Linked DNA regions of Homo sapiens. The protein of the gene in region 4 interacts with the protein of the main gene of each other region in a pairwise test. Each region holds a gene or a part of one and is shown on either strand. Other genes may lie near its edges.

The links.
Region 1: the proteins of MGARP (region 4) and GDAP1 interact in binary tests that used the Homo sapiens proteins (3 or more experiments, as listed by UniProt).
Region 2: the proteins of MGARP (region 4) and A2M interact in binary tests that used the Homo sapiens proteins (3 or more experiments, as listed by UniProt).
Region 3: the proteins of MGARP (region 4) and APBB2 interact in binary tests that used the Homo sapiens proteins (3 or more experiments, as listed by UniProt).

The regions. Positions count from the first base shown.
Region 1 is NC_000008.11:74,356,865-74,360,432, reverse strand, and holds part of GDAP1 (ganglioside-induced differentiation-associated protein 1), read right to left. Parts: intron 297-3,568; coding exon 123-296; intron 1-122. UniProt on the Homo sapiens protein: Regulates the mitochondrial network by promoting mitochondrial fission.
Region 2 is NC_000012.12:9,070,870-9,074,437, forward strand, and holds part of A2M (alpha-2-macroglobulin isoform a precursor), read right to left. Parts: intron 2,003-3,568; coding exon 1,784-2,002; intron 1,618-1,783; coding exon 1,490-1,617; intron 1-1,489. UniProt on the Homo sapiens protein: Is able to inhibit all four classes of proteinases by a unique 'trapping' mechanism. This protein has a peptide stretch, called the 'bait region' which contains specific cleavage sites for different proteinases.
Region 3 is NC_000004.12:41,204,492-41,208,059, reverse strand, and holds part of APBB2 (amyloid beta precursor protein binding family B member 2), read left to right. Parts: intron 1-3,568. UniProt on the Homo sapiens protein: Plays a role in the maintenance of lens transparency, and may also play a role in muscle cell strength. Involved in hippocampal neurite branching and neuromuscular junction formation, as a result plays a role in spatial memory functioning.
Region 4 is NC_000004.12:139,277,414-139,281,727, forward strand, and holds the start of MGARP (protein MGARP), read right to left. Parts: upstream 2,813-4,314; 5' UTR 2,746-2,812; coding exon 2,664-2,745; intron 1-2,663. UniProt on the Homo sapiens protein: Plays a role in the trafficking of mitochondria along microtubules. Regulates the kinesin-mediated axonal transport of mitochondria to nerve terminals along microtubules during hypoxia.

The DNA.
Region 1 (3,568 bases), on a different chromosome or scaffold from region 4:
TGAAGCAAACTCAACAACCCTATTCCCAATCTTCTTTTAGTGACCATGAGACATGCTAGGTCTCAAAATGAATTAAAAGAAAGTGTCAGACAGAATTCCAGGTCTTTAAAATGTTTACATACTACGAATCCTTGTAGTTGCATAAGCCGGGATCATGGAGTCCACAGTTAACTCAGGATGTAAAATGCAGCCATGTGTATAGGCATCCATTGGCAAGGAGTCAAGCAGCTCTCGGTAATGTTGTACCCGTGGGTAATACATGCTTTCTTTATCAGGCATTAACCTGGGTGTTCTTTCTAAAATACACACACACAAATATTGAAGAAAAAGTTACACATGAGTTGTTACACTCAAAAGCAAAACAAAAACACTATCCACTCATCATTAACATTTTCAACATATCTGTATATTCAAAAAACACTGTCTCCTCACCTCAGACATTCATTCAAAGTTTGAAATGGCCTGATGCACCAGACAAGATCCCAAACCATAATCACATTGGTATTCTCTCATTTCTTCACCTTGCAAACTGCACTCAGCCCTCAAGGCCCAGTTATTTATGCCATTTATTCCATGAAGCATTCCCTAACCTCCTACAACTGCCAACATCTGACTGGCTCACATGTGCCTTCTTCTATACATCCATAACACATTACACACACTCTGTTACAGCCCTTATCACACTGTAATTCATTGCATCTTTTTTCCCCATGACTGTCTTCAGGGAAAGGAACCTGCAATCCAGAGTCTAGCACAGTTCTCCACACACTTGAGGCCCTCAATAAAGTTTGGTTAATTGAATGAGGGCTCATTATGGAAAGATAATCAGGGGCTACTCTTTTCTAGGTGCCAACCAACATCAAGAGTGACCCTACTGACACATGTGAATGTGAATGACAATCTATATGGAACAGGAAAGGCCTTTGCTCAAATATCGCAGGTGCACTTTCCCCAGGAATTTCTAACAATTATCTCTGGAAAGTGGGTTCTACATACATCCTTATTTGCTAGTTAAAATCCAAACTGTAGAGTCCTTGAGGGCAGGGACCATGTACTGCTCTCTGTTAAATCCCCAGTGCCTAGTATAATGTTTGACATGTAGTAGGTGTTTAATAAATTACAATGAATACATTCCAAAATTTCCAATTATTATATAGATTACTTGAGCTGGAGAAGTGCTGCAGGAGTTAACATGTACACTCAGATACAAGGGCTGAAAATTTCTCCCAAGATCCCACAGCTAATTAGAGGCAGAGCTAGAACTAAAGTCATCTGATTCCTAATGTAATGTTCTCTTTGATTATACCATCATAACATTTTCAAAGGATTTTCATTTCATAGACTATCGAAAAAGAATAAAAGTGAAGGATGCAACCCAAAGGTCAGGGCTATGTCCCTTCAGAATCTCTTCCTATCTCTGGCTGTCAAACTGTCCCTAAAAAATGTCAGGTCTAATAACTATCACAATTTCAAAATATTAAGATATCTGCAATAACTTAACCATGAACATATCTGTGAGTTCTATTGGTTATCAAAGCCAGAAGCACTCCTGATATTGCCATGGATTGTGCCTACATTGCTAATGGAAGGAAATAATTCCTTTAAATAGAGATACAATTATTCCCTATCCAAGATCTCAAATCTCCTGAATTCTATTCATAAACCCCTAAGCGCAACAGTTCTCACACTATGGTCTGAGGATCCCTGGGTTTTCCTAAAACATGTTTGGGGGATCTACAAAGATATTTTTATAGAAATACTAAGACGTTAATTACTTTTTCACTCTTATTCTCTCTCAAGTGTACAGTAGAAGTTTCCAGAGGCTACAGGAAACATGACTCTATCACTCTGACAGCTAGTGGGATTGTGCTTAACCAGGCTAATATTTTAAGTTTTCTCAGTTTTGCTTTCTAAATGGTAAATATTGATAGCTATGATCCACATAAACAAATGCTCTCTGGTATCCTCAAAGACAAAGGGGTATAGAGACCAAAAAGTTTAAGAACTAATGCTTTAGGGGTCCAAGAACCTCAGGCTAATAACCCTAAATAGTACATTTTCAAATGCTTCCCAAAAGGTCCAAGTAATGGCTAGTGGCTCTGGCTGCTTTCTGGTACTGGGCCCTGGGGCTTCTCTCCAGAAGAGCATACCATTTCCTTCCTAGGAAAGTGAATGAGAGCAGGAAAAACAATGTCTAATTGCTTTCTGGGGAAGATCCATCAGGCCAAGCCCAAATTCTTCAAGGAGGACAAATGTTTAAATCCATGAAAATAATTTTCTTCTACTCAGTGTGCCGTTACTGTCTAACCATTTCCTGAAGCACTCTGTCAGAGCATGAGATACCCACTGAACCCAAGTTATCTCCCCATCTCTCTTTCTTTGTGCGCATCAAGCATGCCCTCTCCAGTATCACAGGGGCACTGCGCTGCCATCCTCACACTGAAGCACAACAGTATCTGCTGCTTCTGATAAAAGAGTTTTTCAAAGGAAAACTGGGAATTTCCTTTGAATTATAGAGGAGATCTTCCCTCTCAATCCCATCCTATTTTATTTTCCAGTTCTTCCGTAGAGTACCTTTATCAAAATACCAAAAGCAAGAATTTTTTTCTCAGTAATGTACCTCAATCAGGAGTGGGAAAGCAACATAAGGCATAGCGGGGCAGGACAGAGAATTAGGGAGTTTTAAGAAGCAGGCAATGAGAGGAGGTCCCAGCATTGGGGAGTGGGATTGCAACAGTGGAAATGAGGCTTGGTATTAAGCTAGAAGAACAAATAAGTTGGCACAAGATCCGACTTGCCGGAAGAACTGAGTAGGGGAAAAGTTTTATATTACACATAAATTTAGGCAGCAAATTATAAACCAGCAGATAGACATAAAGCAGAAAGATTTGATAAACAGCAGAGGAAACCAAAAGAAGCAAAAAATAAAATCAGAAAGAAACAATAAAAGCATTCTGCAGCCATGTAATGGAGACAAATGGGCCTCTACATTCTCAAGTCCCTGTAATGCTGAGTAAAATAACAATGGCTCTGAGCCATTTTTTTAAATTACATTTGGTTTTCCCAAGAGTAAAACATAAAAAGAAATTAGGGGCTTAAAGGCATAAGTTTTCATTATTTTACAAAATTCACTACTCTGGTTACCCATCTTTCCTAGTAAAGGCAGATAAAGGAGGCATTATTATGCCTTGTTTTCAAGAAAGACTCCCCTAGGTCTACTTGTACAACTTTCAAGTCTCCCTTACTACTAGCTCAATGGAAACAGATTAGATTTCATTCCTCACTCTAGCCCTTTGCTGTTTATTTTACTTAGACTGTATAGTGATTGCATCAGTATATAATATGCATAATACAGCTGAATAATATTGTACCCTTCAACTAGTCACACACTAGGCTATTTTTAAAAAATTCAATAATAGGCTGGGCACGGTGGCTCATGCCTGTAATCCCAGCACTTTGGGAGGCCAAGGCAGGCAGATCACGAGGTCAGGAGATCGAGAGACCATCCCGGCCAACATGGTGAAACCCCGTCTCTACTAAAATACAAAAAATTAGCCGGGCGTGGTGG
Region 2 (3,568 bases), on a different chromosome or scaffold from region 4:
GAGTGCAATGGCATGATTTCGGCTCACCGCAACCTCCGCCTCCTGGGTTCAAGTGATTCTCCTGCCTCAGCCTCCCGAGTAGCTGGGATTACAGGCATGCACCACCACGTCCGACTAATTTTGTATTTTTAGTACAGACGGGGTTTCTCCATGTTGGTCAGGCTGGTCTTGAACTCCCGACCTAAGGTAATCTGCCCGCCTTGGCCTCCCAAAGTGCTGAGATTACAGGCGTGAGCCACCACGCCCGGCTGAGGATCTGCATTTTAAGAAAGCTCTACAAGTGATGCACAGGCTGTTTGTGACCTCTAATCTATGCCAGTTATTTTATTTATTTGTTTACTTTTATTTTCTTTCAGCTGACAAAATGATGTATATTATGAATAATAAATTTCAGTCTACATTATTTACAAAAACAACAATAATTTATAATGTTTACTTAAACACTGGCTTTCAACAAAACACTTAGAAACACCTAGCGTCTTGTCCCCGAGAGTTTGCATCCGAAATTTGGACTGCTTAATTTATTTTTTGGCATATATATACACCAAATTAAATGAAAAAAATATATATATATATACTTAACTTTTAGGTTCAGGCGTACACATGCAGGTTTGTTATATAGGTAAACTCGTGTCATGGGGGTTTGGTGTACAGATTACTTTATCACTTGGGTACTAAATTTTGCACTGAATTGTTGTTTTTTTCTGATCTTCTCCCTCCTCCCATCCTTAACCCTCAAGTAGGCTCTGGTGTCTGTTGTTCTCCTTTTTGTGTCCATATGTTCTCATCATTTAGCTCCCACTTACAAATGAGAACATGCAGTGTTTGGTTTTCCATTCCTGTGCTAGTTTGCCAAGGATAATGACCTCCATCTCCATCCATGTTCCTGCAAAGGTCATGATCTCATTCTTTTTGATGTGTGCCAGTTATTTGTTACATGTATTTTGTCCTAACTTTTTTCCTGAATAGTATCTCCAACCAAGTAATAATATGTTTGTGGAGAGAGAGTTTTTTATCAGATCTGCAGCTATTTAAATATTGATGCATATAAGTGTATCTTCCCCCCAAATTAATTATATCATATATAACCTGAGATTTATTATTGCCAGTAGGAATTCTAACTAAGGAGTCACTACTTCCTTCTATTCAAACTTTTCAATAATTCTTCATCTCTATCTTCAATAAAGCAAGAATAATATAGGATTTCATTACATAACAAGGAATTCAGGTCAGAGGCAATGGGTAATATTTACTTAGTTGTTATTGAGGGAAATTATTACCCTTTAAACAATGAGGTTGCACAATAGTAGATCCTGGATGGACAATGTAAACCCCATCATTGAGAAATTATATCAACTTAAGAGAATACATTGCATTTTTTGTGAATAGTGCAAATATCTACTGTTGCACTGCTTTACTTAAAGAGGAGTTCCCGAAAGAAGACTGGTGGTTATTCTTAGGATTAGGTGATAGAGTCAGAAGGTCTTACCTGACACTTAGGGAGATTTGGAAGCTGGTGTGGGCTTTGGGTTCATCACAAGTTTGAGGCAGAGTCTGCACTCCTAAAGCAAAGGGGAACTCTTCCTTTTCTGGGAGAATATTGTATTTCAAGGATGTCTATAGAACATCAAAGACAAAATCAGTTTTTTGCCCTTTCCCAGAATTCCTGTCCACGTCCCTAACCCTTTCTCTGATCTGTCCCATTGTTTTCTGAGTTAGGACTTCTCAGAGAGAACAGCTGCTGTCCTCATCTGTCCTGTCCTCACCTGCCCAAGAGTCTCACCTGGAGGTAGACACATCCTTCTCCTGTCACTTTCATGCTGTATTCCCCAGGCAGCTCTGGCAATGAGACCTGCTGCAGTAACAGGCGGTTGTTGTTGTCCACTTGGAATTTGCTGGAAAATGTCCCTGAAGACTGGATAGTCACCTGTGCAGCCTTCCCAGTCCTGGTAAATGTGGCTGCTCCATATTTGGACAGAGCATGGAGAGCCACCACTGTGTCCTGTTAGAGACAGATGAGTGAGAGAACCCATTGGGCATTATAAGGCTTTGAGGGCTGAGATATTTTTCAAAGACCCATGTGAGGGACTTTGATTTCCTACTTCCCTCACTACTTAAATATAGGAGCTGTAATTTCAAGATTGATTATAATCTTTAGATAGTTGAAGAACCATAACATTCACATATCTACCTTGGACTGTATGCCCTACATGTTTATTTTATTTATCAGAAAATTGATCCTTTTCTCTCTGTAAGTATATGTGGGACATGGAATGTGGAAAACATGTGAATGGCAATCAGTTATTGGCATCAGCTATTTGCTAACATGTCTTTCTTGACAACTATGCTCATATCTGCCACCACTCAAGCAAAGTTCAGTCTGGCTCTCTCCCATATTAAACTTTGCTCAGTTGCTGAGGTCAGTGTCCTGGAGAGAACCCAAGGTTCTTTGCAGCCATGAGCAGAGTCATGCTTCAGTTTCTCCAAAAGAAATAAAAGATGAGTATTATAATTATCTTCTGGATTTAATGACATTTTTATTTGGCTTTCCCTTTTTATTGGATGATTTCCTGTTCCCAGTGAATGTCTGCTGGTATGTATCCTCAACAACATTAAACCTGCTTGGCCTCCTTCAAATAATATGTTTCTAATAAATGAATGATAACCTTTAACAAAATTACTTAGTTTTTTTCATTCATATGATAAAAGATTAATACAATGGAAATAGGATGGAATGCCATTTTGTCACATTTTTTCCGTTTTAGGGTATATAAGCAAACATCCGAATTCTCTGAAGATAAAACTTTCTGCTGTGTACATATCAATGAATTGTTCAGATACATGGTTATATAGCTAGATTTAGGAGGTTGGATGAATAAAGACAGTTCTTTATGCTCCTGATGAATAAATGTTTGTGTATTAAGAGGTGAATAGGGGGCTGGACGCAGTGGCTCACACCTATAATCCTAGCACTTTGTGAGGCCAAGGCGGATGGATTGCCTGAGCTCAGGACTTCGAGATCAGCCTGGGCAACATGGCAAAACCTCGTCTCTACTAAAAATACAAAAATTAGCCAGGCATGATTGCACATGACTGTAATCCTAGATACTTGGGAGGCTGAGGCACTAGAATCGCTTGAACCTGGGAGATGGAGGTTGCAGTGAGCCGAGATTGCACCACTGCATTCCAGCCTAGGTGACAGAGCAAGACTCTGTCTTAAAAAAAAAAAAAAAAAAAAGGTGAATAGGGGAAGCACAAAATGTGTAGTTTTGAGAAAAGCCTATTAAAGGGGACCTAAGAATGGAGAGATTTGCGAGGAGAGGTTGTTGGATTTTGAGTAGAGTTCCTTTGAACAGTTTGAAAGAGACCCTAGAGCTTTCAGGAGAATGGCAGGAGACATCTCCTTCATTCTGCTGGTGCTCCACTGCTGCTTGAGGAAGGCAGTGTTGTTATGGGAAATAGGAGATGGATAATAACACAGCGATGGGGTGCCGGGATTCTGAGCATTTCCTTTTGGCCCTCTTTGACTTTGATTTGCTTTTATTTCCATTATCCTTGGATACTGAAA
Region 3 (3,568 bases), about 98 Mb from region 4:
TATGCAGAGCATAATGTTAGCCCCACAGGTCATTTATTGTTGGTTAGTGGTTTTCACTGTTCTTATCACAATGATGATAATGATGTAGTGAATATGTCATAATTGTTCAAATAAGAAGATATGTCCTTTTCTCTGATACTATGCCTTTCTCATTTTTGGGTAAGATTCTTTTATGATTTGATAGGAATATTTTTATCTAGCCGCTGAATGGTCCATGAAATTGGTAAGTCTGGGAATCTGGGCCTGAGATGCAGGGAGGCCTGCCCTTGGGATTGAGTTGAGTCATGGAGGCCAGGCCAACATGTGGAGTTTGTGGGTCAGCTGATGGGGCCCCTGGGCTTTCCAGGAATATAGAGTCACCCAAGGTCCTAGGAACTGTGAATGAGCTAATTTTGAAAGTGCCCTAGGAGCCAGTGACTATTTTTGAATTATAGCTTGAGAATGACAAGGAAAGCACCAAGATGAAAGATGAGGGTGTAAGGGAACAGAATGGGCAAGTGGTTGAAGTGTGAATTTCAGCAGGTGAACCTCAAGATGTATCTTGACATTTGATTCTTTGCATGCAGGCCTCTTTCTGGCAAAACAACACTCTTTAGCAATTCTTAGTTAGTGATTCTAGGAAATGGTGATGGGTGAAAGCCATAGAACCTAGAATTGTGTAATAGCCAGCTTGGCCCAGACCTCTGCAGTATCATTCCCTCCAGGGTGAGCCTTGAATTGCTGGAGGAAGCTTCAGAATGATTTGCTCATGGAATTGCTGTTATTCACCTTTAGTTTTGGTTGCTATTGTGGGGTGAAGAAGGAGTGTCAAAACAATAACAACAAATTATTTCCTTTTTTTTTTTTTTTTTTTTTTTTTTTGAGACGGAGTCTCACTTGGTCGCCCAGGCTGGAATGCAGTGGCTTAATCTCGGCTCACTGCAACCTCCACCTTCCAGGTTCAAGCAGTTTTCCTGCCTCAGCTACCCAAGTAGTTGGAACTACAGGTGCCCGCCACTGTATCCGGCTAATTTTTGTATTTTTAGTAGAGGCTGGGGTTTCACCACTTTGGCCAAGCAGGTCTCGAACTCCTGACCTCAAGTGATCTGCCCGCCTCAGCCTCTCAAAGTGCTGGGATTACAGGTATGGGTCCTCTCCCTGGCAGCATCCTGCTTGCTCTTTGGTGCTGGCTCTGTTCTTACCTTCTGATCTTCCTTCTGTTTCTCAGGTAGACTTCTGTCCTGGGCAAGAGTCGACCTGCCACATTGAGTATCACAATTTGCTAGGTGGTATTGTTTGTCAGTGGAAGTGAATAAATCAGAATTTCCTTAGCATGAGTTAGGTTTCTTGAGTTGTTTCATTCCTGGGGGAACTAATACCGTTAAAATTTCCTTGACATTTCAAGAAATGATCATATACCACATTGCAAATTTTGAACACAGCAGAGGCATGATTTGGGTGTAGAGACACCTTGGGAAGCATTGATTCAGACTCAGATTCTTCAGATTATCTGATCAGAACCTCTTGTCCTCTCCAAGAACCAAGGTCTGTGTATACCTTTTCCAGGACACTGGTGAAGAGAGACATTCATTTGGTGACATCCAGAAACCTCGGCTTCATTTGTTCCTTCCTTTGTTCAGCAAATGCTTATTGAGTACATAGTTTGTGCCTGGCACTGTGCTAAGTTCAGGAGGACAGAGAGGAATGTACCAGAACATTGGTTATAGGGTGCTGCAGTAGAGGCATGTGTGTGATGGGAGTGGAGGGGAAGGAAGGCTGTCCTAATCCTGCGAGAGTGGCAAGAGCTGTGGCTAGTGACTCCTCATGTAAAATTCCCACTACAGCAAACCCTTCAGCTGCTTCCTTTGTCATCTTTCCTTAACTCAATTTTATTCCTGCCTACCACCCAGGATTTGCTACTCCTTTTGTAAGGGAACTCGGGATTTGGCCTTTCAAATCTCTGTGGCAGTAGTTCTTAAGCAGGACAGTTTTGCTCACTGGGGAACATTTGGCAGTGACATTTTGGTCATGGTGACTGTGGAGGGATAACTACTGGCATCTAGTAGGAAGAGGCTAAGAATGCTACTAAATATCCTACAACATGTGCAAGGATAGCCCTAGAAGGAGGCAGCAGGGGTTTAGTGGTCAAGTCCCAGTGCTGCTCTGCAATTTAATAGCCATATGACAAAGGGCAACAGAATTGTACTTTGACAACAGAATTACACAGTGCTCAGTTTGCTCATCTGCAAATAGGAATACTAATTGTGCTTATATAATATGATTGTTGTGAAGATTTCATCAGTGAATGTATAAGGGCAGAGAACAATACTTGATGTGAGATAAGACCTTACTTAACGAGTATTTTTATTTTTAGTTTTAAACAAAAACTTTACCTTTTGACTCTAAAGAGCTTGAGTTTAGAGTATCCAGGGCAGTTGAGCTTGTAGCCCTACCTGTAAGTATGCTTTGGTGTAGGAAATGGCCATAGTTTTTGTGTTTTTCTAGTTCCTTTTTGTCCGTTGGCTTTATTTCCCATTGTCTCATCTCTTGAGATTTTTAATAGCTTTGCCTTTCATCCCTTTTTTCCCAGGGACCCAAATTTATGCCCTTAATGAGCTTTTCCCTAGAGGGCTGAGAATTATATTTATGATTTTCCTTAGCTCTGTCTATTTTGGGAATGGTGAGAAAATGGGAAGCGGGTCAGGGGAGATGTTGCATTACTTCCTGATTGCCATAGCTCCCTTCTCTGTAAAATCCCGTGAAGGATTGAGAGGCAGGTGGTAGTGCTTGCTTAGTAACTCTTCCCTTTACACCCACCAGCTCCACTCCCAAGTTGGGTGCCTACTACTTCCAAAATACCCCGTAATTGGGTCACAACATTATCTGCCTGCTTGGAATCATATTTAAAAATCAAAGCAAAGATGCAGACTATGTCAGCAGGATTTGAAATGTTTCCATCCTCTGCTTTGAGGCTTTGCAGAATTATTCTGAAAACAAAAGAAGGTAAACTTGTTATCCCAATGAGGTGGCAGTTTCTATGTGGCCTAGAATTATGCCTAATTTTTGCTTGTAAAAGGGCTCAAACCATGATCCTTTCTGACTTTCCACAGGGATGTGAGCTTTTGTGGACATCACTCAACAGATCAGATTTACTGTTGAATTTTCATAACATAATTGACTTGGAAAGCATTTCATTCAGTGTTTTGAATGGTGACTAGAGAGAAATTAAGAAGCTCAGTTGTTATATCTTTCGAATTCCTTTCCCATGACACAGTCATCTCTCCCCTGAATGAGAGCAGTGGCCTCCTGGCTTATCCAGCTCTGTTCACTCAGTTTGGCTTCCCAAGTGCTGGGCACTGTTCCAGATGCCACACGTGGACACTGACCAGGATGGCCACTGCCTCTACCTGCTCGGAGCTCTGGGTCTATAGAGAAAGGCTGACAGCTAAGGAATGAATGACGGTACTATGTGATACGTATTACTGGGAGAAATACTCAGTGCTTCCCAGACGAGCACTTATCCTGCTTGGGTGTGGGGAGTGTGTGGGGCAAAGCTTCCAGGAGAAGGGATGCTAAGTCTATTCCACAG
Region 4 (4,314 bases):
TCTGATGGCTTAAAAGTACATCTGTGATCAAATAGGGAATATATAGCCTTCATATTTCTCAAACAGACAAAAATATCAGAAATATTTTTTAAATAGAACTAAAATTACCAGAGATTTAAGTAGACTTAAATACAAATACAATGATGGACAAGTTACTTAAAAAGACAATGAAATGAGAAATTTTTCAATAAGGATTAATTAGACAAATTTTAGCACATTCATACAATGTGAAACAAATAGACATAACTTTTGCAGAACAATATTTACTTACATGAGAAAATATTTACAATGTATTAGGTGAAAAGTCATAGCAAAATACTCTGGGACTATCCAAGATTTGTGGAAATAATGTGCACAAGGAAGGAATGAGGGGAAAAAAAAGGTCTGGAAAACTAAATATACTAAAACGTAATTAGTTGTGTTCACTGAGTGGTAGGATTACAGGTGAATTCCATTTTTTATTTTACCTGTTTTTCCCCAATTATCTATTATAAATCTAAATTATTTATTCATTAAAAAGTTACCCTTTTAAGGCTGGGCTCGGTGGCTCACACCTGTAATCCCAGCACTTTGGGAGGCCGAGGTAGGTGGATCACCTTAGGTTGGGAGTTCAAGACCAGCCTGACCAACATGGAGAAACCCCATCTCTACTAAAAATGCAAAATTAGCTGGGTGTGGTGGCCCGTGCCTGTAATCCCAGCTACTCCGGAGGCTGAGGCAGGAGAATCACTTGGATCCGGGAGGCGGAGGTTGTGGTGAGCCGAGATCACGCCATTGCACTCCAGCCTGAGCAACAAGAGTGAAACTCTGTCTCAAAAAAATAAAATTACCCTTTTAAAAGCAAAAAGGAGAGAACAAAATGTGATGAGACACAGTTAAAAATTTTTCCTTCAATAAAACTGAAAAAAATTATTTTTCATCAAAGTAGAAAGTATGAACAAAAGGTTAAGTAATGTCCACGACTGAAGACAAATTTGTTTCCAATCAATAATAGTTCTTAAATACATTTTAAGTGCTGCAAAAATAGTTAGATGAAAATCAGAGAAAGACCAGTACCTTTACAAGCAGCATTGCTAGATACGTATTTAAAATTTTTAAACTACTTCTATTTTGCCGCAAATTGGGAAGAAAATTATTTGGAATTTCTGCAGCTACAAAAAAAAGGTGCGCGTGTGTGTGTGTGTGTTTGTGTGTGCGTGCACGCGCGCATGATGTCGGTGGGGAACGCAGACAGATAAAACGAAAGGCCACGGTCAGAGGACTAATCTTTCTCCCCGTTCTCAACAGAACAGTCCCGTTATCTTCCGAAGTTTAAAATAAATGGCTTCTCCCTACTTCATCAGTGTATATATATATTTAAAAGCTCTATATCATTTGGTATAAAGATCTAGAAAAATAAAGGCAATAAAGATCTAGGAAAACGAAGATGTCTTATTTCTGATACTTGAGGGATAACTTCCTTCCACCAGCATTTTACAAGAAAAATAAAGCGAGTTAGTTAGACCTCCGTCCTTCCCTCCCACCACCACCAACAGAGGCCTAATCAACGTGAAAAAAAAATCGGCCCATGGAATTCTCCGCGCACATCTTTCTCTCCTGCTGGAATCCACCCTCTGGGGTAAAATTATCTCGGAAGGCTCAGAAAGTGAGGCTAAGTGAAGAGAGCATTAAGAACCCTTCACGATATTGTCTAAGAGCCGTCCCCCAGTCGTGAGTGGAAGAGAGAGGGGTGACGGATGGGGACTAGGGAAAAGCGGCTGGGGCAGAACCGCCCTGGAGCGCAAGCCTGGTCCCAGAAGAAAAACAATCTTCCTTGCTCACACCTATTAAGCACCTACTATGTTCCCAGCACTATACGAAGCGCTTTCCTATATGTCCGTTTTTATTTAATAAGCCTCCAGTTCACACTGCAACTCCCCCTTTAGTTAATTGCTGAGTATTCTGCTTTTTCTCGCGTATCCTCAGAACCAAAGGTGTCGATATTTGGACTACAGAGCCAAGCAGTTGCAGGACGACGTGCAACCTCAAAGGAAAGTGTCCCGAAGGCCGCTTCCTTTTTGGGGGTTGTGGATCTCAGAGCCAGGCGCTCGCGGGGTTCAGGCTGCTGAGACCCTGCCAAGGGTTAGGTTTATTTACCCCACGAACATTCGCCCAGCGTCCACTGAGCGGGCCCTGCCTCACTGCCTCCCAGCGCTTGCCGGGCCCGCTCGCTGATCGGCGTCCACCTTCCCACCGTTCCTCTGCTTCCTCAGGAGATTGGAGAGCGAATGGTGCCTCTAACAATAAAAGTGGTAAGCTGCGACTTTGTCAGCCAGGCACGTTTTTAAGTGCTTTTAACCATACATTAACTCATTAAAAAGGAAAACCATCATCGCCCTCATTTTATAGATGAGGAAACAGGTTAAGCCATTTGTCCAAGATCAGGATGCGAACCCAGATAATCTGGACTCTGAGGCACCCTGGAAAAGTTCCCTACTTCCAAAGTCTGCAGGAGCTTCGGGACGTCTTCCCGGGAGTCTCCCCCAGTCTCCTCGACCTCCAATCCAGGCTTCTGCTGCTCTGGGTCGGGTTTGGCCAACTGGGTGCCGGCCGGTTCCCTGGCGCGGGCGAAATCTGCACCCGAGGCGCCCGTCCTCCTCTCCGGGCTAGACCTCCTTACTCACCGTCCTTTCCGAGCGGCGCGGGGTTGGGGGGCGCCCTCAGCGGCAGCGCCAGAGTCTTGGAGACCGCCCTGCGGAGATACATCGCGCCCGCTGTCCGCCGCGCAGCAGCCTCGGTACCCAGGCGCAGGCTGCCCTTCCACAGAGAGGCTGAGAGCCTGGCAGCGCCCCGCCCGGAGGAGGCACGTCGACCTTCATCCAGCCCCGCCTCCGCGGCCCCCGGGAGGTGGGGAGACCTTTGTAGTCCTCACCATCCTCCCCTAACCCATCTCCAGCTCTGTTGCTATCCCTGAGGTCTCTAGAGCTGACCGCGGCATCTCAGAAAAGGGATGGGGAACCTACAAGTCGCCGTCGCCTGCCTGGCTCATTCTGTACCACTGAATGTAACTCCTCACAGCAAGCTGGAAATGTTTTGGGAATTGGACGAGATTAAGACAAGGACACAGTTTATCACGCTGGATGTAATCTGAAACCATTTTATCTCCTGCATTCCGTTAGCTTTCCTAGGAGAGGGAAGGATAGCTGGAAGTTTCTTAAAAATGAGAAGAGCGAAGGGGTAGCCTCAGCCTTCCATTAGCGCACTGGGTGATGCTCAGAATCGTAAGAAAATCTGCAGACAATGGTTGAATTTCTAGACAGCTCACTGTTAAAACGACTTTAAAATATCAAAAACACTGTATATTCCTCTATGGGATGTGAAATTAATATTTCCACATCAGCGGCCGGGCACAGTGGCTCACGTTTATAATCCCAGCACTTTGGGAGGCCGAGGCAGGCGGATCACTTGAGGTCAGGAGTTGGAGAGCAGCCTGGGCAACATGGTGAAACCCCGTTTCTACTAAAAATACAAAAAATTAGCCGGGAGTGGTGGCGCGGGCCTGTAATCCCAGCTACTCGGGACGCTAAGGCAGGAGAATCGCTTGAACCCGGGAGGCGGAGGTCGCAGTGAGCCGAGATCATGCCACTACATTCAAGCCTGGGTGACAGAGCAAGACCCTGTCTCAAAAGCAAAACAAAACAAAACAAAAACCCCAAAAACAAAACAAAACAAACAAAACAAAAAAACACATCAACTAAAAATACTAAATTATTAGTTTTCCGTCTCATCGTGGCTACAAGAACTTGTCATGGTTTGAATATGGAAACCAATAATTTATTACGTTTATAACATTGTCTAAATGATTACTCTTTGGAAGACACCATTTCCTACTATAATAATCCCTTATGTGTGTTTGGCACTTGAAAGATTATAAAGCACTTTCACATCTATTATCTCTTTTAATTTTCACTGCAACCCTCTGAGGGAGGTGGCAATTATTCCCTTTAGCAAATGCCACCACCAGGTGGTGGGTGGGAATGTCCAGGGATTTACTGGTGGTCATGAATTAAAAAACAAAAAGGACATGAACATAATACTTCTAGCTTAAAGTTCTATTGGCATGTAACAGGCACAATATTTGTTCATTTGCTATGTAAATAGACGTTTCTCAGAAGTTATAGTCCTGAACCTAATTATAATTATATTTAACATATTCTCATAAGAAGAGTACAAGCCAATGATCAGATTGGTTTTTTGATACTCAGAAAGAGAGTTAACTAGTTTAATCACTAGGGTGACAGAGCGAGACTCAGTCTCAAAAAAAAAAAAAGTTTA